4 linked regions of the Homo sapiens genome follow. The protein of the gene in region 1 interacts with the protein of each later gene in a pairwise test. Each region holds a gene or a part of one and is shown in the gene's direction. Other genes may lie near its edges. The genes, in order: CLVS2, FBXW2, PHETA2 and S100A7A.

What was found.
Region 2: the proteins of CLVS2 (region 1) and FBXW2 interact in binary tests that used the Homo sapiens proteins (3 or more experiments, as listed by UniProt).
Region 3: the proteins of CLVS2 (region 1) and PHETA2 interact in binary tests that used the Homo sapiens proteins (3 or more experiments, as listed by UniProt).
Region 4: the proteins of CLVS2 (region 1) and S100A7A interact in binary tests that used the Homo sapiens proteins (3 or more experiments, as listed by UniProt).

The regions. Positions count from the first base shown.
Region 1 is NC_000006.12:122,992,270-122,999,255, forward strand, and holds the start of CLVS2 (clavesin-2), read left to right. Parts: upstream 1-3,965; 5' UTR 3,966-4,477; intron 4,478-4,949; 5' UTR 4,950-5,508; coding exon 5,509-5,897; intron 5,898-6,986. UniProt on the Homo sapiens protein: Required for normal morphology of late endosomes and/or lysosomes in neurons. Binds phosphatidylinositol 3,5-bisphosphate (PtdIns(3,5)P2).
Region 2 is NC_000009.12:120,756,467-120,762,437, reverse strand, and holds the end of FBXW2 (F-box/WD repeat-containing protein 2), read left to right. Parts: 3' UTR 1-5,464; downstream 5,465-5,971. UniProt on the Homo sapiens protein: Substrate-recognition component of the SCF (SKP1-CUL1-F-box protein)-type E3 ubiquitin ligase complex.
Region 3 is NC_000022.11:42,069,493-42,077,275, forward strand, and holds the start of PHETA2 (sesquipedalian-2), read left to right. Parts: upstream 1-4,755; 5' UTR 4,756-4,849; intron 4,850-6,078; 5' UTR 6,079-6,160; intron 6,161-6,566; exon of another isoform or gene 6,567-6,669; intron 6,670-7,783. Other genes in the region: NAGA (alpha-N-acetylgalactosaminidase precursor), read right to left, coding at 790-805. UniProt on the Homo sapiens protein: Plays a role in endocytic trafficking. Required for receptor recycling from endosomes, both to the trans-Golgi network and the plasma membrane.
Region 4 is NC_000001.11:153,412,472-153,419,535, forward strand, and holds the start of S100A7A (protein S100-A7A), read left to right. Parts: upstream 1-4,048; 5' UTR 4,049-4,092; intron 4,093-5,594; 5' UTR 5,595-5,611; coding exon 5,612-5,752; intron 5,753-6,673; coding exon 6,674-6,838; 3' UTR 6,839-7,064.

The DNA.
Region 1 (6,986 bases):
GATATTCTAAGCAGGACCTAAAAAGCACTATTCATAGGAGAAAAACTGAATTACCTAAAAATTTAAAATTATGTTGATTAAGAGACAGGGCTAAGAGAGTGAAAGAAACAAGCCATGGACATGGAGAAGATATTCACAACATGTGCAGCTGACAAAGGGTTTATATTCAGAATCTATAAAGAAGCTCTACAATTCAATATTAAAGCAATCAACACCCCACTATAAACATCAGCAAAATCTCTGAAATGACACTTCACACAAATAATGTACAAATGGCCCAAAAAACGTGAAAGTTTAACCTCATTAGTAGTGATGGGAAAGCATACCAAAACCATAATACAATACCCTTGTTCAAAATCAGAATGGATAAAGTTAAAATTATAGACAATAATAAGATTTCTGAGAACATGGCACAGTAAGAACACTCATATATTGCTGGGGGTTGGTGAAACAACCATTTGGAAAACAGTTTGGCATTATTTACTAAATTTGGAGATGCACATTACATATGACCCAGAAATTTTCATTCCTAGGTCTCTCCATGTGCACCAAAAGACATGTGCCAGAATCTTCATACATCATGGTTCATAAGAGCTCCAAACTGAAAACAACCCAAATTTCCCTCCACAGTAGAATGACACACATATTGTAGTAGGTGTATAAAAATGAAATTCTACGGCTGGGTGCGGTGGCTCATGCCTGTAATCCCAGCACTTTGGGAGGCCGAGGCTGGAAGATCATGAAGTCAGGAGTTCATAACTAGCCTAACCAACATGGTTAAACCCTGTCTCTACGAAAAATACAAAAATTAGCCAGGAGTGGTGGCGTGTGCCTGTAATTCCAGCTACTCAGGAGGCTGAGGCAGGAGAATCACTTGAACCTGGGAGGCGCAGGTTGCAGTGAGCCAGGATCACCCCATTGCACTCCAGCCTGGGTGACAGAGGGAGACTCCGTCTCAGGAAAAAAAGAAATGCAATTTTATGCACCATTACTGAATATGAGGGAGCTGCTACATACAACAACACTGACAAAGACAAATCACACAAATTTAATATTGAATGAAAGAGGTCAATCATAACATTACATATAAATGATTACATTTAAGTTCAGAAACAGAAAAACAAAATTGTAGTTATTTAGTTGGTAAAATTTAAAAAAAACAAACAAGGATTACTTTTAAAATAAAGACAGTGTGGCTTCCTTTGTTGGAAAGAGGCCAGTAGTTAGGAGGGGAATGGGAGGGGGCTTTCTGGCTACTGACAATGCTTGGTTTCTTAACCTGGTTGGACACTTACATGTGTGTTTCCCTTGTAAGATAGAATTGAGCCGTACATCTTTATTTTGTGCTCCTTTTTGTGCATATATTTTATTTAACAATAAAGGGAATAAAATGTTTTAAAACATAAAGTACTTACTCTACTCATTTTAAATATAGCAGTAAACCAAACTTTTCTTTCTAGTTACTTGAAAACACCTGAAGTCCTTGATTTAATTATTTTTCCAATAATGCTTTAATTAATACTTTTGTTTAGATAATTTATTCTCATATTCCAGTTCCTACATTACTTTGCATTAATTTGGCAAGGTAGATTAATATTGAATGAAAATCAAATGCTCTGATGTCATCTGAATAAACACCTTGTTTAATTTTAGATGGCTTCGTGTATTCATTTTGGTTTCAGAACTGAGTTCAAATGTATAAGTAGAGAGAGAATAACAGTATAATCACTAAAGTTTTGTAAATATGATTTAAAAATCTTATATATACCTAACTGACCTGCTCCAACAATCCTACTGGGTGATAGAGACTATTTCTATCATATGTAGATATGTTAAAATAAATCTATTTGAAGCAATTCTGTTATTGGTAAATAATAAATAATAAAAATGTCATCCTTCAACCTTCAATACTGGTCATAACATATGCTGGGCCAAAAAATACATTTTATTTTATAAATTCCCTTAAAAATATAGTCTAATATGTCCATCTCAGAGAACAAAATTAAACAACTGTTTTTTCATCAAGGTGAAAGATCTGAATTTTAACTTCACTTACAGGCTAACAAGTTAGCTGGCTGTAGTTTCATGGATGCCGATGGAAGATGCAAAACTCTTGGCTTCGAGATAAAGGATTTTGTCACTCAGGCATAGCGGGCAGTATGAGCATCTGCATATCTTGCATTGACTGGTCCCCTGAGCTCTAATTCCCACAGATAGCTAAGAAAAGAGGATCAAGTGATACTGGCATAAACAATGGGTGGCATTACAGCAGAATAGCTCTGAGTTTAGGGAATTCAAATAAGCTTGCCTACCTTTTGGTCAGGAGAGAGATATCACAGCTTTCAAGGCTTTGTTTCAGATGGAGGTACTATCTCTATCTTCCAATATCTTCCAAGACTATTTACTGTACAAATACCCTTGAGAAGACAGTCTAGAAAAAAGGGCAATTAGTGCCTTGGTCATAAGACAGGTAGAAACACAACGGATCCAGGGAGAATTGTCTCTCCATGTTGGTGATGACTAAAACTTCTTCATACAGTTGATACGAAACATAAATTTTCTTCAACCTCTAAAATATTAGAAAAAATGATTTTTTCAAATGTTTTAAAATGAGAACCAAAAATTTAACAGTTCACATTGCATTCAGCATGCTTGAGAAAGTCATAATCACTTAAAATCCTAGAAGGACCTTATATATAGTGCATATATATAACACACATATACACACACTTAAGTGGTTTATTTTCTGCCTTCCCCATTTAAAACATAAATTCCTTGACAATAATGACTGTGTGTGTGTGTGTGTGTGTGTGTGTAATTTATTGTCTTATTCGGGTTCCTACATTAATTTGCATTAATTTAATTAATAAATGCTCTAGCTCTACCATACAACCCTTTTCCTTCTTTCTTTTTATCAACACCATCGCCATGAGAAGAGCAAAAACAAGTGTGCCTGTATTTTGAGGGTTCTCATAGTCATCAACATTGAAAATGACAAGATAAGAAATGTCAAGATAAGAAAATGACAAAATTTGCTTATCTTCAAGACCACCTCCTATACACAGAATGCAGAAAAATGCCCCACACCTCGTGGAACTCAGTAAATATTAGTTGCATTGAATTAACTTCAATTCAAGACCCCATTCTACAGTTTATAAAGTCAAAAGTTGCTCTTAGTAACACGCTCAGTAATATGTGCTGTGTTTTGAAAATAGAAAATATCCCTTTTCCTCAAATCCATAGATAGTCATATTAAGCGCAAGGACTTCTGTTTATTTATAATGATTCTCATATACAGATGCATACAACTGAAGGAAGGATGGTATGTGTTTCCAGAAATATTTGCTTTATGATGAGATATGAGTGAAGTTCCTATTTTTTTCTTCCTTTGAGAATTATGTTTTTATTATCATTTACCCTAGTGCTCATTTTCATCCTCTTCAACAGAAATTTAGCAGGGAGACTGGTTGAAAAACTATTCATATAAGTTCCTCCGGAGGCTTAATCATCAGTACATTGTCTTGGAACCACTCTGGTGTTTTCTAAATTAAATATCTCTGTCTACAACAAATGCGAAAAGTACAGAATGTTTCCGTACTCCTTCTACATCAAAATTGCCTCCTACAGGAACGAGAAAATGCGTGTCAATGTGAATTACCGTCTACAACAGCTACTCTCCAGGCTGATCTGGGGTCTTGCACACAAAGGGCGAAGAGAGGGGCGTGGGGAGGCTGGAAAGCATGGTTGCCCCGCCTGGCCCGGCGACGCCCGCTCAGCAGCCTGCTGAGGAGTGGGGACGAAGAGCAGCCTAAACTTAGGGCTCGGGATATTTCGATGCCACCCAAATTGCCGTCCTACCCCAACGAGGCAGGGAAAGGAGCGGAGCGCGCGCGCGAGCTGAGTGAGTGCTTACGTCGCAGCGAGATCTGTGCTGGGATAATTAGAGAGGAGTTGGGCTGAGCCGAGTCCTCTTTCAGCAGCAGCAGCCGGAGCCGCCGCCGCAGCCCGGTGGGGCAACCCTGACTCGGACCGCTCGGGAGAGCCCCAGGAGAGGCCAGCGCCGCGCAGCAGCCGCCCCGCTGCGCCCACCTCCCCGGCTGCTCCCGGAGGGCTCACAAAGGCGGTGGCCGCCCGAGTGGCCTTCTCCATCCAGGCGTTCGCGTCCTCCTCCCCACCTTCTCTCCCGAAGGCGAAAATGGCAGGGCCAGGCGAGAACCTGGGACAGCGGTGGCCCTAGCCCTGCGATCCTCACCCCTCCTGCTAGGAGAGGCTGCGGGCTGCCCGCGGACGATGTGGCCGCGGCTGCTCCCGAGCGCATCTTCGGCCCGGGTCCCCGCCGCCACCCCTCTTCTCTGCTCCTTCCATCCCGCCCAGAGGAGTTGATGCCGCTGTCGCCGCCGCCGCCGCTGCTGAAGCCGCGGCTGATGGATGCCAGGGAGTGCCGCATTGCTTAGCGACCCCGCCTCTGGGTTTGCTGGTAGGAGCGGCTGCTCTTTCTTCTTTCTTGCTTTGGGGTTTTATAGAAAAGATAAGGACATTTTTATTTTATTCTTCACAACGTCCTCCCCTTCTCTTCGTTTTTGAAATGTGCATTCCCAGAGATATCCCCGGTCCCCTCCCTCCCCCTCCCCCCTTTTCTCCAACCCCGCGGCAAGTCCGTGGAAATGAAGGGCTAGAGGAAGGCAGAAGTTGGGGGTGGGGTTGGGGGAGCCCACGCTGGTACCAACGCCACCAGAACCCCTGCTGGTGCCTTATGAGATCACGGTGTATCTCAGAGGGGTGGTGGGAAGGTGCGCTATCTGCAGAGTCTTCACCTAATTGGATCACAATAATCTTAAATAAATCACACAAATTTGTCTTTTAAAAATAGCGTCTTTGAATAAGTACAGGGAGAAATAATCTCCTTTCTCCCCCCTCTTTCTCTCTGTCTCTTTTTCTTTCTGGCAAAGATGATCTCTCTCCGCCCTGGAGCTCAGCGCTGAAGAGCTACCTTATTATTAATCAGAATTTCCATCGCCACCCCTGGCAGGCGTATCCTTCAGCAGGGACCGCAGGAACATTCACAGTGCAGGGGCTGAGATGTGCGTGGGGGTTGTTTTTGTTACATCTTGGAAGAGAAGAGAAGAGGACAGTACCAAGATCAGAAACACCCGTGCTAGGTGGAATTAGGGGTGATTTGTTAGGAAAGAGAAAGGACAAGAAGAGGAGTGCGGAGCCCTTCAGGGGTTCACATCTCTTTAAAGGAAAGGAAAGAGGGAGCCAAAGTAGGGTGTTGTATTTTAGGGGGCAGAGGAAGAAGTTTACACCCCCCGGCCCCCCCAGCTTTGCTGGGGGAAAGCAGGAGCAACAGGGCACTTGATTGGACACCAAGATTATTAATTTCCTGTAGGGGAGAGGAAGCAGGCAGCAGGAGGTCTGGGGGCTGGAGTCTGGTGGTGGCAAGGACCAGGTTTGCTTTGGGACAGTCAACAAGGTCTTCTGAGGGAAAGCTCAGAGATAGGCAGAACAATGACTCATTTGCAAGCCGGTCTCTCCCCTGAGACCCTGGAGAAAGCTCGCCTGGAGCTCAATGAAAACCCAGACACGCTGCACCAGGACATCCAGGAGGTGAGGGATATGGTCATCACCAGGCCGGACATTGGCTTTCTGCGCACGGATGATGCCTTCATCTTACGCTTCTTGCGGGCTAGGAAGTTTCATCACTTTGAGGCCTTCCGCCTCCTGGCGCAGTACTTTGAGTACCGGCAGCAGAACCTGGACATGTTCAAAAGCTTTAAGGCCACCGACCCTGGCATCAAGCAGGCACTGAAGGATGGCTTCCCTGGGGGCCTGGCCAATCTGGACCACTATGGCAGGAAGATTCTAGTCCTTTTTGCTGCCAATTGGGATCAGAGCAGGTAAATCCTAAATCCAAACTTGTATTCTCCTTTTACTCTCCCATTTTCCAGAATTTACCCCGAGTAGTGTCATGGTTTTGTAGATTTGATATTTTTGTTTATTTGGCTTGGAGAAAAGAGAAACAAACCAGGAGATGAGTTTTTGGTGGGCACCCTGGGAAGGGAGGAGGGCTTGTATTTTTACTTTTAAAACTTACTTCACTAACACCCACTTTCTACTGCAGCTTTAAGGTGCTACCTTAACCACGTTATTGCACAGAGATCTAAATCACTTAACTTGTAAATAAAGCTTCTCTGTATGTTTCACCTTCTGAAAAAGTTTATTGGGCTGGATAAACCAGTAAGAAAATGGGGACAACTTTTCCTCCTTCTTCCTAAAAAAATTCTTAAACTAGACCCATCATCATTGTCATCATCATCATCATCATCCTCTCTTTGGTACTGACGTTTTATCTTTTAAGCATAGCCTGGCGTTCGACCAAAAGCAAGTAGTTTTGTTGCTTGGGAAGTTCTCTGTTTGGTGATGTGTAGAAGAAGGAATAATATGATTTGTGTCCCTTCAGTGAAAGGAAGAGTTGCATCCTCTGTCGCTGAGCATGCCTGCTGACACTGAAAATGTACACTGACTGGTGTATGTGTCCTACACCTGCCACTAATCTAAAGAATCTGTCTCCTGTCTCATGTGATTTTTCATCTTTTGGAAGGAAGTGGAAAATATTCAGATGTGTCAGTTGGTGGACTTTTTGAGCTCATGTGCTACTTAATAGAGAAGAAATAATATTCTTTTTATCTACATTATTATAGAAAAATGCAGGCAATGACACTTCTCTGTCCTCCTTCAGAACTGTTTTCTCAGACTGAAAGATATAAGAAATTATAAAAGGCTCTTGTGCAAGGTAGTTTCAATTAAGTTCAAAGTTAAATATATTTCATGGGACTTAAAATGCTACCAGAGCTATGAATCATAAGAAGCTGCTTGTTAAAACATTGGTGTATTTTTAGTTCTGTGAATGGTGACTTTCAATGCATCTGGTTAGTTTAAATCATCTCTGGAGCCATCGTACAAGACATTTACAGTTACCAAGAGGG
Region 2 (5,971 bases), on another chromosome or scaffold:
GGAATCACAACTGAATCTATTTTGCAGAAGCCCCAGGAGACTTTGGGCAATGATGATGGTAAATGACTTTTTACTTTATTATTATTTTTTTTTTTTTGAGACAGAGTTTCGCTCTTACTGCGCAGGCTGGAGTGCAATGGCACGATCTTGGCTCACTGCAACCTCCGCCTCCTGGGTTCAAGTGATTCTCCTGCCTCAGCCTCCTAAGTAGCTGGGATTACAAGCATCTGCCATGACACCCAACTAATTTTTATATTTTTAGTAGAGACAGGGTTCCACCATGTTGGCCAGGCTGGTCTTGAACTCCTGACCTCAGGTCATCCACCTGCCTTGGCCTCCCAAAGTGCTGGGATTACAGGCGTGAGCCACCACGCCTGGCCGAGTTTTTACTTTTTATCGAGCCTGAACAGATAACTATTACTGATCTAATGACCATCCCCACCCTACCTCACTTTCAGATCTATCCAATAGCTTCAAAGGGCAAGTAATTATAATCATTTGTGGGAAAAGTTTTATTAAAAAGTGACAAACTTGAAGCTGTATATAGTATGTTCTATTTCAGTTTTTAGTGGTGAATACAGAAGTCATCAAGGTGGTACTTGGTGCCGCTGGAATTTTTTTTTTTTCCTAGGCAGTCTTGCTCTGTCATACAGGCTGGAGTACAGTGGCATCATCATGCAGCTGGATTTTGACAGCAGAACTTCAGGCAGTAATTGGAGTCCTAATGTCAGTTCTTCCTTATGGAGGCCTTTATTTGGCCTGAGATTTTATTCAACTACTTTATAGATGCTGGGTTTATTCATACTATCGCCAGTTTTTATAAAAATGGAAAACTAGCTCATCCTTTTTGCAAAAGAAAGCAAAGTGGGGAGTCAGAATGAGAAGTGGATAGGGGATAACTAAAACTATTCTTTACTCTCCTTTCATTGCCTTTGAGAGCTAGCTCTTGCACACACTGACTTTGGCTTCCTTAGCGCATAGGTAAGGGAATTGCCTTTCCCTCTTTTGTGAATATTCTCATTTCTGAAAAATTCTAAGTCATGAGAAGATAAGCCCTATCCTTTCTTACAAGGATTGGATTTCTTGGGTGACACTGTGGTGTGGTGGAAGCCAGCGGCTTCTTTCAGGTTCATAAAGGCCATCATAACAACTTCAGGCTTCATGGTGTGGACAGGGATCCAGGAGAGCTGAGTGGATGTGTGAAGTTTCTGATAGATTCTGTCATCATTCCAAAGGAATGTAGTTTCCTCCAGCTCAATCATTTGAAGTAATACACATTGCCAAATCTGACTGTAACCTGACATTTTAGACCTATTGGAGAAATAGGAAGAAAGCCCCTCCAGTGGAAGGACTGGACTTGGAAGAAGTTCTGCAGGAAGGTGCATGCAATTGGATAGCTGTTCATGAGTGAAACGTGGGGAACATTGCTATGAAATTGTAAGGTTTGCACTTCATTTTTCGTAGTTTAAAAATTGCTCTGTTCTGGCTGTTGAAAACACTTGGTGTGAGGTTTGAATGAGGATTATATAATCATTCTAGTATTCATAGGAAAATGATTACTGCTCTCTATTTGTAAAACAAAAGAAATAACTTTCGGAAACAGTATTTTAGACATGAGGAAATTGTTTGTATTAGGCATTTTGATCTAACAGAATCAGCTAAGGATAGTGGATCCTGGCTTTACACATTTCTTTGACCAAACCCAGCTGGCAACTTGAAGTTGTTACTGTGTGGCTTCCAGATTGCCTAGAGGTGAATCCTACCAACATCACTGTTTTTTTTGTTTTGTTTTGTTTTTTTTGTATGTTTTTGAGACAGAGTCTTGCTCTATCCCCAGGCTGGAGTGCAGTGGCGTGATCTCGGCTTACTGCAACCTCAGCCTCCTGGGTTCAAGCGATTCTCCTGCCTCAGCCTCCTGAGTAGCTGAGACTACAGGCGCGTGCCACCACGCCCAGCTATTTTTGTATTTTTAGTAGAGACGAGGTTTCACTATGTTGGCCAGGATGGTCTTGATTTCTTGACCTCGTGTTCTGCCCGCCTCTACCTCCCAAAGTGCCGGGATTACAGGCGTGAGCTGCTGTGCCCGGCCCCAGCATCACTTTTATAGCTTTCTGTGCCTCTTCCTCTGGGCCTTGGTGTATGAAGCCACTTGCCTTTCTCTGTTGGGAAGCGAGCAGAATCAGATTGCTACTCATGATGCAGTCCGGGCAGGGCATACTGTCACCTTTGCCTGTGGACACAGTTGTCAGGATAGGGGAGAAGCCCTTTAGGTCCGTCTTCTTGACACAGCCCTCCTACCTGGTTACGCTGGTGCTTTCGCTTGGTTTAGACAACCAAGACACTTGAGAATTATGCTGTCCTCAGAATGTCTGATGAAAAGAACAGATTCACTTTTTTGACACAATGCCCATTAGCCATCTTTGGCAGTGTTTCTGATCAAAGGTTCCCCATGCCTGCTCTAGGAAAGTAAACTTTTTTCAGAATAAATCCTCAAATGGATTACTGAGTAGTCTTTGCACCATTCCCATCAGCCTAATCAGACTGAATGGTCACGCTCAGTGCAAAAAGCTGTTTTGCTGTTAGGATGTTTCAGTGTTTCTTGTCTTTCCTGGAACAGTTCAGTTGTTTAAATTTAGTAATTCAATCCTGACCAGTGTAAACCCACTTAATTATTGCAGCCTAAAGAATTCAGCTACTTCTACTCTTCATAAATGTGCCCAAGTAAATATGTGTTTTTAATATTCAACCCTGGAAAATTAGTAATTCAGATGATAAAAGCTCATGTTTTGGTGTCTTTGTACTCAGATTGTGAACAGGCATATTTCACTGATTTAGACTTAGTATACTTGATGAGAATGCTCAGGTTGAAGAGATAGTTCTGTCAGCAATCCAACATCTATAGCAATGTGGAAAAAGTAATCAACTCATATTTCACGAATTTGATGTATGTTGTGATTTAGAGGGCATGAGATAAAGTTTATATTTGAACTGTGTGGGGTAGGGGGAAGAAGAGGTTGCTTAAGCAAATAGTGGGGTGATTGTGGAACAAGATGTCTCTAAGATGAGAAGTTATTTTCTTGCATCATAGAAGCACTCTTTTTACCCGTGAGTGATTGTGTTAACTATAAATCATTTATATCTGTACATTAAAGCAGATTCCCTCAATTAGGCAAATTTGGTTAGCCAAGCCCAAGTTATTGTTTGTACTTGAAAGTAATAAAGCTGCATTTCCTTAAAAATATATTCTGTAGTTAAGACTTTGTCTTGCTTTCCCCCCAACCACTTCAGACATTTTATCCAACCAATGCAGGGACTTTTCAAAAGTCAGTGTGTTTTTGAAAATAGAACAACCCCTTGAGTGATCTGAGGTGGCTCTGTTTTTTTACTGTTTCTGCATCTTCTAGAAGGTAAACTCAACAATATAACCATTTCTGAAGGTGATCCAAAAAGCAAAACAATAAAGGTAAAACACAAGGAAATAATTTTGGTGAATTTCATGAATAGTTGCAAATGAAGGGATGGGGTGGGTAAAAGTCCCATTTTGCTTCCAGACCTTGGAATAGTCTTCCTCTCTTTTGCCCAAGGATGTGTCTATCCAGCACATCTTTGCATGAGTTCTTTCTTACTAACTTAAACTTACGGGGCTTCTTGTCATTTGAGTACCACGGCCCTGCACCTTTGATCCCCTGACAGCATCATTAAGGGCAGATTGTCATTCCTGTTTTACAGATGAGAAAGCTGTGGCTTGGTAAAGTGATTCATTGCCTAGAGGAGTTATAGTAAGTGGTGAGGCTGAAGCCCTGATTTTCAGCCCCCACACACCTGGATTTTTTCCATGTTTTCATGTTTGTCTGTTCTTTCTGTATTTCAAGTCTCTTCAAATCCCGACTGCTGCCTTCTGCCTTCACCACTTGTGTGCACTGTTCAACCTGTCTTATGCTTTGCTTCCAGGGAGTCTCCCCAACCACTTCTTTGAGCACTTACTTGCTCTTGTTCAATCTTGGTAACTCTCCGTTACCATCAGGGCACATCTGGATTCCTTAACATCATGGAGCCCTAGCTAATTTCTTCGAGCAAACAGTTCTTGCTCCTCTATTTATTTCCACCCTTGCGCTTTGGGTGTTAATCTCCCATCCTCGTGGAAAGTTCTTGATGTTCCTTTCCACCAGTCCTAGGGCCAGGCTTTAATCCCATTGATCTCCCACTATCTTTAAAGCCTCTGCTGACCACCATACCCCACTCCAGCCTCACTGAGCATTTTTGTGTAAGGTTAGTGGTGCAGTTCATTTAGCAATAAATACTGTTGTACCTTTTGCAGTAGACAACTATTAACTTTCATCCTTGATTCTCAGTTTTTTCCAAAATACAAGTGAATACCTGGTTTCCCCAGCAACATTGTAAGATTGAGAGTAGGAATTCATTGAGATTTTAATGAATTCCATGGATTGTCTTAAGAGCTATCTAAACTTGGAAGAAAAATAACTTCCAGAGCATCTAAAATTGAAAATAAAAGATCAGAAGCAAATGAAAGATCAATTCCACACAGCTTTTCCTCTCTTAGACGTCCCTCTTCTGCCATATCCTGTAAACATCTGAAGTGTTCTGAGTACATTTGGAGAGAATATTTAATGATCACACTGTGATTAGACATGAGTAGTCCCTGCCAGTGGGATGTTCCTGTCCTTTGCATTTTAACCACATGTTCTGTGCTCTCTGTGGTAAAGATAATCTAACAGTAATAAAAACTTATGGAGAAAATTACCCAGAGCTCCTTTATCATTACGATTTTTAATACTCTCTTCTAATCCTTATGCACATGTGTATGGATTTATGTACTGCAAATCATTGTTTTGTAATACATTCTCAAAAATGTGCTTTAGGTTTTTACAACTACCATAATATTTTGTAATTTTCCTTCATTACTGTAATTTGCTAAACCATTTCTGTTTTGGTAGATAATTAGGTAGTTTCCAGTTCTGCTTTTTAGAAGATACTACAGAGAACTTCTTTGTGCATATTTCCTTAGAACAAGTTCCAGTAGAAGACTTACTCGCAAAAGCAGTGGAATTTTTTCTTAGTATTTTCTGTTACAGGTACAGAAGAGTGCATACAACACACAGTTTTGTCGAATAGTTATGAAGTGAACACTTGTCTAACCACTGCCCGAGTCAAGAAAGAACATTTCTAAACATGTTTGCCAATTTAATAGATATAAAGGAAGTATCTCAAGGTTGCTTTAACTGACATTTCTTTAACACATGACAACATTTTTATGGGGGAGGGGACTAGAGAGAAAATGACATATTTTTATGTGTGCTTATTTGTATCTCTTGAATTCTGTCTGCATCTTTTACCCATTACACTTTCAAATACTTGTGAAATCATTGGTCGAGATGAATTATGGCTATAAATAAAATTTCACTAATCTAATTATCACTGATTTAGAAATAATAGTTCAACCCAAGACATGCGTTGAAGTGTTCTTTCATTACATAAAAAGGATTTGTGTCAAGTAAACCTATACACAATCTGTTTACATATTACTGGTTTATATGGTACATCACAAATTATGCAAAAAGTAGATCTAGTAAGACCCAGTACCAAAGATTAGAGCTAGTCAACAATACTATTTAAAGGAAAATATGGACAGTCATGAGTCAAAATGTTTTTTCCCCAAATTAACCATAATATATATTGAAGTTTAAAATGAGGAATTCATTTTGGAAAGCAGCCAAGCACAGATTCTAAGAACATAGTAATCCTGTGTTTTATTTTTACTCAATGCAGACTCGAGGGTGTCAGGTGTGCTTTTATATCTCCAGCTTCTAAGTTCAGAGAGGAGATTTTCTATCTGAAACTTTTTATAGGATAGCAAACATTCCTGAGTTTCTTAGTTCAGCAGGTTTAGCCATGTAAGGCAGCTCTTGGGCTAGTTGATCTTTCAGGCTTTAAGGGCACAAGGCTTAAACTC
Region 3 (7,783 bases), on another chromosome or scaffold:
GTAATCCCAGCTACTTAGGAGGCTGAGCAGGAGACTTGCTTGAACCTGGGAGATGGAGGTTGCAGTGAGCCGAGATCGCGCCACTCTACTCCACTCCAGCCTGGGTGACAGAGTGAGACTCCGTCTCAAAAAAAAAAAAAAAAAAAAAGTGCGACAACGCACATTAGCCTACAGCTGGCCAAAATCATCTAACACAAAGCCTATTTTATAATAAATTGTTGAATATTTCATGCAATTTACTGAATACTGAAACACAGGTTGTATACGTACTGTGGTTTCTACTGAATGTGCGTCGCTTTCACACCACAGTAAAGTTGAAAAATCGTTAAGTCGGGACCATTGGCCAGACTCCAGGTCTCCTGAGCCCCAGTCCAGAGCTCTTTGCTCTCTACCACAGACCCTCAAGAGGCCTCAGAGAGGCTTAAGAAGTAAGCCAGCCAGGATGGGCACCCAATCAGCTCACCTAAGTGAGACCTTTCCCCCTCGGGCCTCAGTTTCCTTATCTGTAATATGGAGTTACTGTAGGGACTGTACAGGCGGTTCTCCGCACATGCTGATATCCATCAGTTAGGGCCTCTGTGCTTGAGGGAGAGGAAGTGAGAAAGGAAGGGCCCCTTTGAAGGAGAAATGATTCCCGTATGGGGAAGCATCTCCTCCCTTCCTGCCCAGCTCTAAGTAAAAGAGAGAGGAACCTGTCTCTCCACATACCCACATTAGGGAAGAAGGGCCAAAGCACTCCTTGTAGCACTCACCCCTACCCTTCCAAGCCACCCCAGCCGGTGTAGGTACCTGTCTTCAGCAGCATCGCTCTGGACTCAGCTTCCGAGGACCTGACCAGATCTGGTCTGCGTGTATCAGCTGTATGTGTTGGGCTCTGGAAGCTAAGAAACGTCTGAAAAGCACTGGGGTCACGGCTGCCTGGCTAGCTCGGCCGCCCTCAACCTTAGGCGTGGATCGTACACTCGGTCCCCAAGTTGCCCGCCCCATCCCCAGCCATCACTTCCCGGAGCTTCAGTTCTTCCTTCAGAAATACGAAACAACGTGTCTTGGATGTCAGACCTCACACCCTCTGCAGTGCTGGGAGTCCCGAGGGCCTACGGGCCGCCTTCGGCCCCGCCCGGGCTCAGAAAAAGGCAGCCACTGGCTTAAGGTCACCAAGAAAGAGCGGAGGGGCGGGGCTGCGGCCAGGCTCCGGACTTCCAGCCGGGTCCGGGTTCCCGCCCTGGGCTCCCCAAAACCGCAGAGCCCCCTCCCACCGCACTTATCCTACCGAAGCGTTCAGACCTGCCGCCGCTTCTGACTCGAATCCGGTAACCTGATAAGTCCGAAGCGTTCCAGTGAGGGCGGGGCCTCACGAAGGCAACCCTTCGCGCAACCTATCAGAATCCCCCCTAGCAACGCTGTGCCCCGCCCATATGGGTCCGGCCTCCCAGCCTCCCTAAGCCCTTCCCCACTGGGCTCCCGCCCTGCGTGCTAGCGAGGCAGGCATTGGCAGAACGGACTCGGGGCTGTCCTTCGTGGCCCGGACCCCGCGAGGCCTGTCCTTCCACCTCTGTGGGGACCAAGAGGGCAAGGATCGTGCCAGGCTCACCGTGGGCGCTCAGTAAGCGGCCGTGCAGAGGACGGTTGAGGGCTTTGTGCAGAGGAAATGAGAGACTGCTCTGAAGCAAGGCCCGCCTAGTGAGCTGCTAGGAAAATGGAAGTCTGGGATTAATCGTCTCTACAAGGAGGGTGCGTGGGAGGCACCAAAGCAGGCGGTCACAGCTCCCGCAAAGGCAGCCGGCTCTCCTTCCCCGCCTGACGCTCAGGGACTACTCGCACAGACTGGGCTACTTCCTTCTTCATTCATTCATCAAGTATTTATTGAGAAACTGCTAAGTGCCAAATGCTTTGTTCTGGGCATTGTAGGGGCAGAAAGGTGTGATATTTTCCCTTACTCATCCCAAAGGTCACAGCGGACACTCCTACAAATAAAATATAGGTTAGCAAGAGAAAAGCATAATAGATTGATTTACTCAATGTTTTATGTGACTTGAGAGCCTTCAGGAATGAAGACACAAATACTCAGGGAAATCTTTATTTTTATGTCTCGGTTTGATGAAGAATGGACAGCCCTGGCCGGGTCTGGTGGCTCATGCCTGTAATCCCAGCACTTTGGAAGGCTGAGGCAGGGGGATCGCTTGAGGCCAGACATTTAAGGACAGTCTGGGCAACATAGTGAGACCCTGTCTCTACAAAAAATTAAAAAGCCAGGCAGGTGCCTGTGGTCCCAGCTACTCGGGAGGCTGAGGTGGGAGGATTGCTTGAGTCCAGGAGGTCGAGGTTGCAGTGAGCTGTGATTGTGTCACTGTACTCCAGCCCGGGCAACAGAAAAAAAAAAAAAGGAATAAGGAATGGACAACTGTGTATAAACGCGATTAGACAAAAGGGAATGATTTAATGTTAATAGCTGAGTGTGGAAACCCAGCAATGTCTGTTCAGATTCGGATTCTTCTTGTTCTCTCTGTGTGGCATTCCCTCCTGCTGGGAGGAGGGCAGGACCCCTTCTGGAATGAGAGTCTTATGACCTAGTATCAGGCAAGGTAGATCAGAGAATTCCTTTATGGCCAGGCCCGACACAGAAAGGTGGGGGATGTTTCCAGTAATATTTGTAGTTACTTTTTTTTCTTTTTTTTTTTCTTTTGAGACAGAGTCTCCCTCTGTCACCAGGCTGGAGTGCAGTGGCGCGATCTCTGCTCACTGCAACCTCCGCCGCCCAGGTTCAAGCGATTCTCCTGCCTCAGCCTCCCAAGTAGTTGGGACTACAGGCGCACGCCACCATGCCCAGCTAATTTTTGTATTTTTAGTAGAGATGGGGTTTCACCATGTTGGCCAGGATGGTCTTGATCTCTTGACCTCGTGATCCGCCCACCTCAGCCTCCCAAAGTGCTGGGATTACAGGCATGAGCCACTGTGCCCAGCCAATATTTGTAGTTGCTATAACTCACCTTAGGGAGGAGGATTTTTAGTTTCTATGGCCTGCCTTGCAGGAGAAAAACAGGAGAAAGAAGGGGGGCAGGAGAAGGTCAGAGAGATACTTTGCTTCTGAGGCTCTTCCAGTGTCCTTTGGTTCAAAGTACTCAGCATGCCCAAGTGCCATATTTTTAGGCATCGCTTTCTGAGCCCCAACAGCACCTTCACTCAGATGGCCACTGGGTGTCTCAAACATAACCCAGACCAAGCACCGGCCACTTTCCACATCTCAGATAATGACAACTCTCCTAGGTGCTCAAGCCAAAACTGTGCAGTCCTGCCTGCTCTTTCCCTCACTCCCCACATCCAACTCCTCAGCAAATCCTGTGTTCTCTACCTTCAACAGCCATTCTAATTCTGGCTGCCTCTCCCTCCCCGCTCTTGCCGCGTTTGTGACATCTCGCCTGGATAGTGGCAGCAGGCTCCTCACTGGTCTCCAGCCTCCACTGACATTGATTCTCACCACAGAAGCCAGAGTATGCCTTGAAATCGCTCAGGTCCCTCCTCACAGCCCTGTCTAGAGTAACAGCCCTCCCAGATTTACAGAGCCCCATCCCACCCCTTCTACCCCCACCTCCTACTGTCTGCCCCTCCCCAGGCCTCCCAGCCTCACTGGCCTTCTTGCAGGTCCTCAAGCACAACAGGCCTGAGGGCCACTGCGCTGACTGTTCCCTCTGCCTGGAATTGGCATGGCTGGCTCCCTCATTTCCTTCAAGTATTTGTCCAATGTTACTTTCTCAGTGAGGCCTACCCTGACCACTCTATTTGCAATTGCAACCTCCCTACTCCCACAATTTCCCATCTCCCTTACCCTCCTCTGTTTTTCCATGCCACTTATTATCTTCTAACACATTTATTATGGTGTACAGTATTAACTGAATAAAATTTAGTAGGGGAGACAGGCAATAAACAAGAAAATAAAAGCATGAGCATAGGAAAGTTTACTCTAGCAGTGAGTGCTCTGATGGAAATAACACCCCAGGGATGGGACAGAGACTGCAGGGCAGGTTGCTTTACAATGGTCCCAGAGGAGACCACTGAGCAGAGACTCAAATCTGTGTCCAGAGGCGTCCTGAGGAGTGGAGCTGCGGTTGGGGGTGGGAAGGAAGGCCATTCTAGGCTGCAGGAACTGCAAGGGCAAAGGCTCTGAGGCGGGAGCCAGGTTCATGGGCAGATGTTTGAGGACACCTCCGGCTTCCAGGGCCTTCCAGAAGTTCCAGTCTCTTGGGTTTGGTTGTGCATTCCTGCGACCTTCACCGCAGGCCTCCTCCTCCACCCACTAGTGCAGAGCCTGGGGGCTGCCGGTGGGTTTCAGGCCAGGGAAGCAGAAATGGGTAATTTCCAGAGGCAGAAATCAGCCGACCCCGGTGGCCCGGTGGGTGGCCAACAAAGCTTGGCTGGCCCTCGCGGGCTGTGTAGGAGCCCACCCTAGGGAGGTACCCAGAGACATCCCTGGTTTGGCTCTGCCGGGAAAGTGGGCCGAGCAGGGAGAGGGGGACCAGAGAGGAAGAGATGGACAGAGTTTTCCGGACGGTGGGCTGGGTCCGAGGCCCGCGGACCGTCCGAGGGGGGCCTCTGGGTTCGAGGCCGCCCGCACCGACCAGTGCTGTGGCTCGGGCAGTTCACCGCCCTCTCGGGCCTCAGTTTCCCGCCCTGGCAGACCTCGAGGCGGCCTCGGAGATCCCGGGCCTGGCGAATACTGGGCGGGGAGGGGCGTTAACTCCAGCCTCCCGGGCGGGGTCTCCCGGCTCCCGCGGCCACGTTGCAGCCCAGGCGGAGGCGCGGGATCTCGAGCTGGGATCGCCCTCTTGGGCTTCGGTGCGATCGGCGGCGGGAGGTGAGAGTGGGCCCGGCGGGCTCCGGGAGGAGGTGGCCCCAGGGAAGGTGTGGCCGCGGGGAAGTGGCGGCGAACAGCCCCGACGCGAGGACGGGGAAACCAAGGCGGCAGCCAGGGAGACCCTGACCGAGGTGACCTCTGTTTAGGGCGACAACCGGGTTGGGGCTCCCCGCAGTGGCCACTGGCCCGGCGGTCCCGCACCCCCAGCCCGCCTCTCCTCCAACAAAAGAATCCAGGAAGACGGTGGGGCGGGCGGGAGGCCCGGTGTGCGGTGGCCTGGCCCCCCTACTGGTGGAGAGGAGGGAGCGCCCTTCCCCAGACGCGGGGGAGGGGAGGGGTCATGGCCCCACGGGCTGCCCACCCCCTCCCTGTGCCCCAGTGCTGGGCCCAGGACCCCCAGTGAGGCCACTCCTCTGGCAAACATCTGTGATCTCTTCCCCCTTCCTGGGCCCCCCCTACTGGAATGGCGTCTCTCCCCATCCAGGGGCCTGGCTTGTTTTTCTCCATAACCCTTAGCATTACCGGTCCTTATGTTATCTCTTATTTCACTAATTATTCTTTCATTAATTTATTAGTATTTATTTTGTTTGCCTACAGTGTGTTTCCCCCTGTGGGAATGTAGGCTCCAGGAGGGCGGGAGACTTCGATTTGTCCACTGATGTATCCCCATTAATTCAACAGATCCCTCCTGAGGGCCTCTCTGAGCCCTGCACGGTGCTGGGTATTGGGGTTCTCCTGGGAACTTAGCTGAGCCCCACCCTAGACATTCTGGGGCTGGGAACAGTGCTGTAAACACATATGACATCGTCGTGGGATGAAGGAAACAAACCAGAAATGGGGGGGTCTACTGGTCAGGTGACCTTAGGTCAGGCCACCTTGGTGGTCAGGGCCACCTTAGATGATATGGTGATCATGGAAGGCCTCCCAGATTAGGTGACTTCAGTTAAAGCCAGGAAGTGCTAGAAGGGAAAAGCTAGGAACCATGAGGGCATGTGTAGCTCTGACCTGGACTCAGGCAGGGAGCTGGGGTCTGAAGAGTAAAGGTCAAGACAAGGGGACCCATCCCCTTAAGCTGCTCAGGGGTTCCTGGCTGGGTGGATGGGTGGGGGGATTCTCAGGGGTCAGGGAAGGCTTCCCGGTGGAGGCTGTGGTTTCATTAGGCCTCGAAGGTGGAGTAGGAGTTCTCATTCTTTGGGATAAGCTGACTGGGCTTGAGAATTGTTTTGCAGGTTCCCTGGGAACCAGGTGGTCGAAGGGCTGAGCTGTGTGGCCAGACAAGAGGTCCCTGCCCTCCCCCAGTGAGCCCTGCTGGTAAGTGGGTACAGTGTGAGGGATTTGGGAGACGAAGCTCTGCGTCTCATTGGCCATGTAACCTTGGGCAAGTTCCCCTCACTGCGCTGGGCCTTGGTTTTCCATGAGTAAGGACAGCTGGACTAAGTGCCGTTCATGATGCTGGGGGCACCCACATTCAATGGCTGTGGTTAGCTCTTCTCAGCTGTACCCTGGGTTTGTGCCACACTCTTGTGTACAGAGTAGCTCCCCATCTGGCCCTGAAGGCTGCAGATTGAGACAGAAAAATAATGTTTTATCTGAGGAATTGGAGCCCCTTTAAATAATCAGGCCCAGACATACTGAAACGCAACAGCTGTCAAGTCTTACTCCTCCCTTGAGCTAAAGAATTATCTCTTTTTCTTTTTTTTTCTTTTCTTTTCTTCATGTCAGATCGGTAATGTGCCTACATGGTAACAAGGTTCGAGGGTGGCACAGCTCACACATGCATGTGAACACCCAATCATCACGCTCATGAACTACAAAAGGATCAAGAATTACCTCTTGAAGCCACTTGCTATGTGGCTCTAGAGTGACACCAAGTAGCCATAAAATGCTGTACACTGGACACCCTATAGTTCATACCCTATAGTTCAACAATGTATAGCCAATCACTAATCAATGTTATTTCTTTTTTTTTTTTTGAGATGGAGTTTCTCTCTTGTCACCCAGGTGGAGTGCAATGGCACAATCTTGGCTCACTGCAACCTCTGCCTCCTGGGATCAAGCAATTCTCCTGCCTCAGCCTCCCGAGTAGCTGGGATTACAGGCACCCACCACCGTGCCTGGCTAATTTTTGTATTTAGAGACGGGGTTTCACCATGTTGGCCAGGCTGGTCTCCAACTCCTGAGCTCAGGTGATCCACCCACCTCGGCCTCCCAAAGTGCTGGGATTACAGATGTGAGCCACCGCACCCCACCAATCAATGTTATTTCTATAAACCAAGGAGAATTCCTGCCAAACAACTTTGTCATCCTTGCCCCCTTCTGCCTATAAAAACCTGTAGGAAAGGCCCAACGCAGCACACCCCACGGCAACTTAGAAGTTTGTTCTGGGCAGTTATCCTTACTCTCGCTCAAGTAAACTCTTTAAAGTTATATTTGTGCCTCAGCTTCTGCCTGTAGGTCAATAAGATTCAACAGCTATATGCAAATAAGAGGCCAGTAGAGGCCCAGGAGGGTCATGGAAACCCTGGAAGCTTGGCCTCAGAGTTGGAGTTGAGAGGACCCCAGATGAGGGGATAGTTTAAGCACAGTGGTTTCGATGGGTCTGGGGTCCATTTCAGCTCAGCTGGGGCCTGTTTCTTTGGATTTTAGAAAGCCGTGCCCAGGTCCTGCCATGCCTCCTGTCTGATGCAATCTCGTTATTCTTTTCTCGAAGTCCGCCAGTGTCCAGTTTTTTTTGCATGATCCTCACGACATCCCTTTGAGAGAAAAGGAAGGAAAGACGAGCCCACTTCTCAGGAGACTTTAGGGACCTTAGGGACACAGCAAGCGAGTAGGAGTCCCAGGGCTGGGGTCCAGGTTGCCTCTGGAGCCGGTGCTGTTCCCCAGGAGGGCACGGAACCACCTCCCTCTCTGATCTGCTGCCATCTCTCTTGCCTC
Region 4 (7,064 bases), on another chromosome or scaffold:
CAGGAAACAACAGATGCTGGGGAGGATGTGGAGAAATAGGAACAGTTTTACACTGTTGGTGGGACTGTAAACTAGTTCAACCATTGTGGAAGACAGTGTGGCGATTCCTCAAGGATCTAGAACTAGAAATACCATTATATGACCCAGCCATCATATTACTGGGTATATACCCAAGGGATTATAAATCATGCTGCTATAAAGACACATGCACACGTATGTTTATTGCAGCACTATTCACAATAGCAAAGACTTGGAACCAACCCAAATGTCCATCAATGATAGACTGGATTAAGAAAATGTGGCACATATACACCATGGAATACTATGCAGCCATAAAAAAGGATGAGTTCATGTCCTTTGTAGGGACACGGATGAAGCTGGAAACCATCATTCTCAGCAGACTATCGCAAGGATAGAAAACCAAACATCACATGTTCTCACTCATAGGTGGGAATTGAACAATGAGAACACCTGGACACAAGAAGGGGAACATCACACATCAGGGCCTGTCGTGAGGTTGGGGCAGCGGGGAGAGATAGCATTAGGAGATATACCTAATGTAAATGACGAGTTAATGGGTGCAGCACACCAACATGGCACATGTATACATATGTAACAAGACTGCACGCTGTGCACATGTACCCTAGAACTGAAAGTATAATAATAATTTTTGTAAAAACGTTAATTATCTAATACAGATTATATAATTAATTTAATAAAGAACCTCAATACAAAAAAAGAAATTTATATGTATTCTCTATGGTCAGGCACAAATTTATGAATGCACGTGTATATAAATAAATTTAAGTGTGTCCTTCAAATATTTTGTATCAGGAATCAGCAAATTATGGTCTTAAAGCCAAATCCAGCTGGCCAACCAATTCTGGAGATTAGTGTTTACTAGAAACAGCTGTCTTCATCCACGGGGCCCTTATGTCCAGGGCTGCTTCTGGGCTGTGGCAGCATCTGCCCGCCCTGCTCTGCACCATTACTGGTGTTTTGTTATCTGACGACTCTGTTGAGTTCCTGGGCAGACTCTGCCAGAAACTGCCAAGTGATATAAATTTGTCAGTTTTCATTAATTTATTTCAATGTTTGCTTTGTATAATTCAATATTATGTTCTTGTGTATATAAGGATAAGACTATTGCCAGGTGCAGTGGCTCACAACTGTAATCCCAGCACTTTGGGAGGCCGAGATGAGTGGATCGCTTGAGGTCAGGAGTTCGAGACCAGCCCGGCCAACATGATGAAACCCCATTTCTATTAAAAATACAAAAATTAGCTGGATATAGTGGCAGGCGCCTATAATCCCAGCTACTCAGAAGGCCGAGGCAGGAGAATCGCTTGAACCTAGGAGGAGGAGATTGCAGCGAGCCAAGATGACACCACTGCACTCTAACCTGGGCTGCAAGAGCAAAAGTGTGTCTCATAAAAAAGAAAAAACAAGAAAGAAAAAAAAGATAAGACTATTGCATCTTGGTGACTTGCACACTAATCAATAGGAAATATTCTTCTTTTTCATTTAATCCCTTTTCTTAGAATTCTTTGTTGTCTTGTATTAATATTGTTGTCCCTGATTCCTTTTGTATTGCATTTCTTCTGTTCCTTTTTTTTATAAACAGTGATGATATGTAACTCAAAATGAATCATAGACCTACATGCAAAACATAATATTACAAAACTCCTAGATGGTAGCATAAGAGGAAATTTGATCATCTTGGTTTTGGTGATGACTTTTTAGATGCAACACCAAGGCACAATCCATGAAAGAAATAATTCATAAGCTGGACTTCTTTAAAATTTAACATTTCTGCTTTGTGAAAGATATTGTCAAGAGAATGAAAAGATAAGCCACAGACTGGGAGAAAATATTTACAAAAGACATATCAGACTTTGTATGTTATCCAAAACGTACAAAGAACTCTTAAAACTCAGAGATAAGAACACAAACCAAACAATTAGAAAATGGGCCAAAGACCTTAACAGACATCTCATCAAAGAAGATACAGAAGGTGACAAATAAGCATATCAGCTGATGCTCCACATCATATGTCCTCAAGGAAATGCAAATTAAAACAACAATGAGATACCAGTACACACTTATGAGAATGCCCAAAATCTGGAACACTGACAGCACCAAATGCTAAAGAAGGATGTGGAGCAACAGGAACTCTCATTCATTGATGGCAGGAACACAAAATAGTACAGCCACTTGGGAAGACAGTTTGGTGCTTTCTTAAAAAACTAAACATACTCTTACCATAGGATCCAGAAATCACACTCTTCGGGATTTACCCAAAAGAACTGAAAGCTTATGTCCACACAAAAACCTGCATACACATGTATATGAACACATTGCACAGTGGTGAAGTCCGGGCTTTTAATGCAGCCATCCTAAATAACACGCATTGTACCCACTAAGAAATGTCTCCTCCTTCACCCACCACCTGACCTCCTGCTCTTCACTGTCTCCAGTGTCTATGATTCTACTCTCTCTCTACCTCCATCTGTATGCATGATGTACCTCCCACTTACACATGAGGGTGCACAGTGTTTGACTTTCTTTTTCTGAGTAATTTCACTTAAGATAATAGCCTCCAGTTCCATCCATGTTGCTGCAAAAGTCATCATTTCATTCTTTTTATGGTTGAGTAGTATTCGTCTGTGTGTGTGTGTATGTGTGCGTTTGTGTGTGTGTTTGTGTGTGTGTGCGTGTGTGTGTGTGTGTGTATCTTTTGCCGCTAAAAGTAATATTGCCGTCATATGGGAAACTGGGAGAGGGAGAAACAGGTCCCCCTGGTTACATAAGAACTGACAGAGAAGGAAGTTGAAGAAAGATGATGGGTGGAGAAAATAGGTCCCACCTAGGGAGACATCACATCAGCTCTATGGAGCCCCAGAGTGCTTAAAGGGCTGGCACTAAATGAACCAGGACCTCTTGCGGCCTACAAGGAACATTGTAAGGGGGTAGCAGAAAAAGTCCATTTCAGTGATTCATCATCTCCTTTTCCTCACCATGCCCCAGGGACTCCTGTGCCTTCCCAACCCTCTTGCCCCTACCTGGTTCAGGCTTTCCACAGCAGGTTAGGGCACATTATAGCCAAGGGCACAACTCCCAACTCCTACACAGGCTGTTTTGCATAGGAGGAGGAAAAACACTGAAGACTTTCTGGGAAGTTAGTGCCATGGGGCAGGAAAGAACTTTTCCCACTCCCTACCTCCAGGCTCATTCCATGGGGCGGGGGGGGCGGGGGTCACTCCACCACTCAACCTAGATAGTGAGGCCCCTGACCCCAGTCCCCCCACCTAAATCCAGGGCTTCTGTGAGGGGCTGACCAATGGTTAGCAATGAAGTAATCCTGCTTCCCTCCCTGGACTTTGAGTTCCCATAGGGCAGACCCTGATGCAACCCAAGACCTATAGCACAGGGGATAAGAGTAAGGATTTGATTCAGGCTTTTCTTTGTTCGTGTGATGATTTGTTGTGTTTACTAGCTGAGTAAACTTGGGAACATCTCAACTTCTCCTTTCCTAAAATAGAGATTGCAGCACCTGCTTCTTAAGACTATGAGGGGAGGGTTGAGGAGGATGCAAGAGCAGCAGGTGTCTTGATGTCTAGACATTAAAACGCTCAGTAAGCGGTGGGGGTCATAGAACAGGCTGTCACAACAAATGTGTGGAAGTACTGGGGGAGGGAATAAACAAGACCATGCTGCCTTTGGGAGTCTGAAACTCCATTCTCTTTGGGTCCAGAGGCCCAGTGCTCTTTTCTCCCATTTCCTGACCTGTTACTACACATGTACCGCTGCCTTACCCTCAAATCAAGATTGAGCCAGAGAAGGCCCCAGGTGAGGTCTCTGGGGTGGGGTGGGACCTGGTGACCTGGGACCCTGGCCAGAAATCCTGAGCACAGCCTCCTGGGTGTGTCCCACACACCTGATATGGGACAAGCCTCCAAGAAACAGATGACAGAGGTGGCCCCAGGCCTCCCAACCCGTGGGAAGAGCCAGGCTGAGCCTTATAAAGGACTGCTCTTTGTCCAAACACACACATCTCACTCATCCTTCTACTCGTGACACTTCCCAGTTCTGGTAAGTCTCACCTGCCTCTTTGCATTTTCTAGAAGTGCCCAGTGCCCAGCCTGCCATGCTGCCTGTAGGAAGGGAAAGGGCTGTGGACAAAGTCTCAGAAGCCTGGGTCTAGGCCAGCTCTGCCATTAGCTGGGCTGTGTGACCTTCACTTGACCCCAAAAGCCCACGTCTGTACAACCAGGTGGCTGAACCAGACCTGTCCATTGCTCCTTTGGGATCTCCTGAGACAACTCCTGTGGAAATGTCCCCAGTGGGACCTGAGCACAGGACCCTCCCTTTCCTTCCTGTCTTCTTCCTCCCTGGATTCATTCTCCTTTTGGGATCCCAGTTGCTGAATCCCCTCCCCAGCTCTGCCCCCACAGAGGGAGGAGGGATAAGGATCCCCTGTGAATGCTTTGGAGGCTCTCCAAACCCCCAGGCCTTGGACCTGTAAATTCTCAGTCAATCTCTGGGCACAGGGCTTGGCCTCTGGCCTTGGCCTTGGCCTCAGATTCAGAAAGCTTTGAGTGGCTTCTCTTAGTCAGTTGCTGGCACGGAGCTTTCTCCTGCGTTGAGAGGTGTTGGGGGTTTATTGTCAGATGCCCACATGCGTTAGCCAAGGTCCTTTTCTGGTTCTTTGGAAAGTGTAGAAATGAGAGCTGCACTGTCTTATTTTTCAGGCTTGGGGTGCAGGGCAGCCCAGGCTGGCTACTGGCTGGAAGATCTGCTTTGGAAAGTCAGACATTTTTATTTAAACAGGGTCAACCCTTGGTGATTCAGAGGGTGCAGATATTTCCCAAGAGCAGACATGAAGCGACTCCCACCTCACTCCCACCCCATCCAGCAGCTTAAGAACCAGGGAGTTATTTCTGTTCCTTGTAACAGAGGCAATTCTTGTTTCTCATTCCCAAGGGAATGTAGGAAGGGCCCCCTGTCCTCGGGAGAGGGCTGTGTTTCCTGCTCACACTCATGTCCACGCTCACATGTGCACCTGGAGCCTGCACGCACTGTGTCATGCAGGGCTTGCACTTGAGTCAAGGTGGGGCCCACGGTGTCTGGTTCCTGAAGCAGCCGAGGAGGGTCAGACACCAGATCACCAAGGCCATTGTCCTGCCCCCGTGACTCTCACCCCGACTGTGAAGCTGGAGGAGATGGATTTGGTGCTGTTTCAAGAGTGGGGTCCGCCATGTGCTGGTTGAGGCTGGGGGGTCCCAGCTTAGTTCTTCTATGTGTTGCTGGCCTCCGACTCTCCCTGCTTCTCCTTCTCTGAAGCACTGTCCACAGCTGGACTTCTGCCATCCACCTGCATCTCTTCTTGGCCCTGGCCAGGATGGGCCGGGTCTCAGACTTGGTCCTACCCTCTCATTTTTGAACAACTTATCCCATCACATTTAAAAAAATCAAGTTCCTTCTGCTCCATCTTAGGGCTGTTTTTACTCTGTCCTCAGCCCTCCTTCTAACACCCCCACATAGAGACCTTAATTCAAACTAAGGTAAGAAATGATTGTCTTTATTTCCTGAAGGCTTTTTGAAAGCAAAGATGAGCAACACTCAAGCTGAGAGGTCCATAATAGGCATGATCGACATGTTTCACAAATACACCGGACGTGATGGCAAGATTGAGAAGCCAAGCCTGCTGACGATGATGAAGGAGAACTTCCCCAATTTCCTCAGTGCCTGTGTGAGTTGGGGTCTAGCTTCTCAATGTTGGTTGGACCCTGGCATGGCTGAGGATACATTTTGCTATGTGGCCTTGGACAGGTCACCCTCATCCTCTGATTAAAAAGTTTCCCATTTGCAAATAGGGCTTTATTGCTTGGATCATATGTGAATCTAAGGATGGTAGGCGAAAAAGTATGAAAATGGGAAAGAGTTATACAGATATAAAGGAGGTTATTAGATGGTCAGCAAAGTGTGCAGCTTGAGGACAGTGCACAGTCCCCTCCCAGCGCTCACTGACCCTCTCTCTGTGAGACTGAAACTCACATGCTCAGGTCCTGCTTCCCAAAGGCCCCACATCAACATCCCTGAGATTACTGGGAAAGCACTAGAAGTTCCATTGCTAGTAGAAATCAATAGCCCTCTTTGCAATAAAGAAAACTCATTGGCAAATCTGAAAAAACCTGTGGGCTACTAGGTACCAAAGGGTCTAGATGACCAAGAGTAGGGAACCCAGAAGATGAGTTTGGTGGAAAAGGAGAAGAAAGGAGAGGAGGTCAGAGAAAGAAGAGAACAAAGCATGAGGGCCAATTTTGAGGCCCTGGGGTAGAACTAAGGTAGGCAGTGCCCTTAAATGCTGGGAACAGGCAAGATTGAGGCTGGGGCAGGGGACTGCTCTCCCCAAGGTCACTTAACAGAGTGCCTCGGGACAGGACCTGCCTCCCATCCTGAGGTGTGAGACAAAAAGTCTCCTTAGAGAACTCCAGGGATAACACTCACGTCCTCACCCCAACTTCACCCACTCACCCTGTGCTCTCAGCCCCACGACCATGCCTGTGCAGATCTAGGTACTTGTCTGTATCTCTGCCTCCTCCTCTCCCCTCCCAGCCCAAAACTTGTTTGTGATTGAATTTTTCTATTTTGTATGTTTTTCTCTTCACAGGACAAAAAGGGCATACATTACCTCGCCACTGTCTTTGAGAAAAAGGACAAGAATGAGGATAAGAAGATTGATTTTTCTGAGTTTCTGTCCTTGCTGGGAGACATAGCCGCAGACTACCACAAGCAGAGCCATGGAGCGGCGCCCTGTTCTGGGGGAAGCCAGTGATCCAGCCCCACCAAGGGGCCTCCAGAGACCCCAGGAACAATAAGTGTCTCCTCCCACCAGACACTTGCCTTATTTCTTCTTCTCTTTGGTGACCTACATTGTCAAAACTACCAATTCCAGGTTAACTTTGTTGGAGAATTTCCCCCACCCCCATCCAGTGGGTCACCCAGGAGTAATGTCCCTCCAGCAACGTTCCCCCTATGGCCTCCAGCAGAGCTGATCTGCC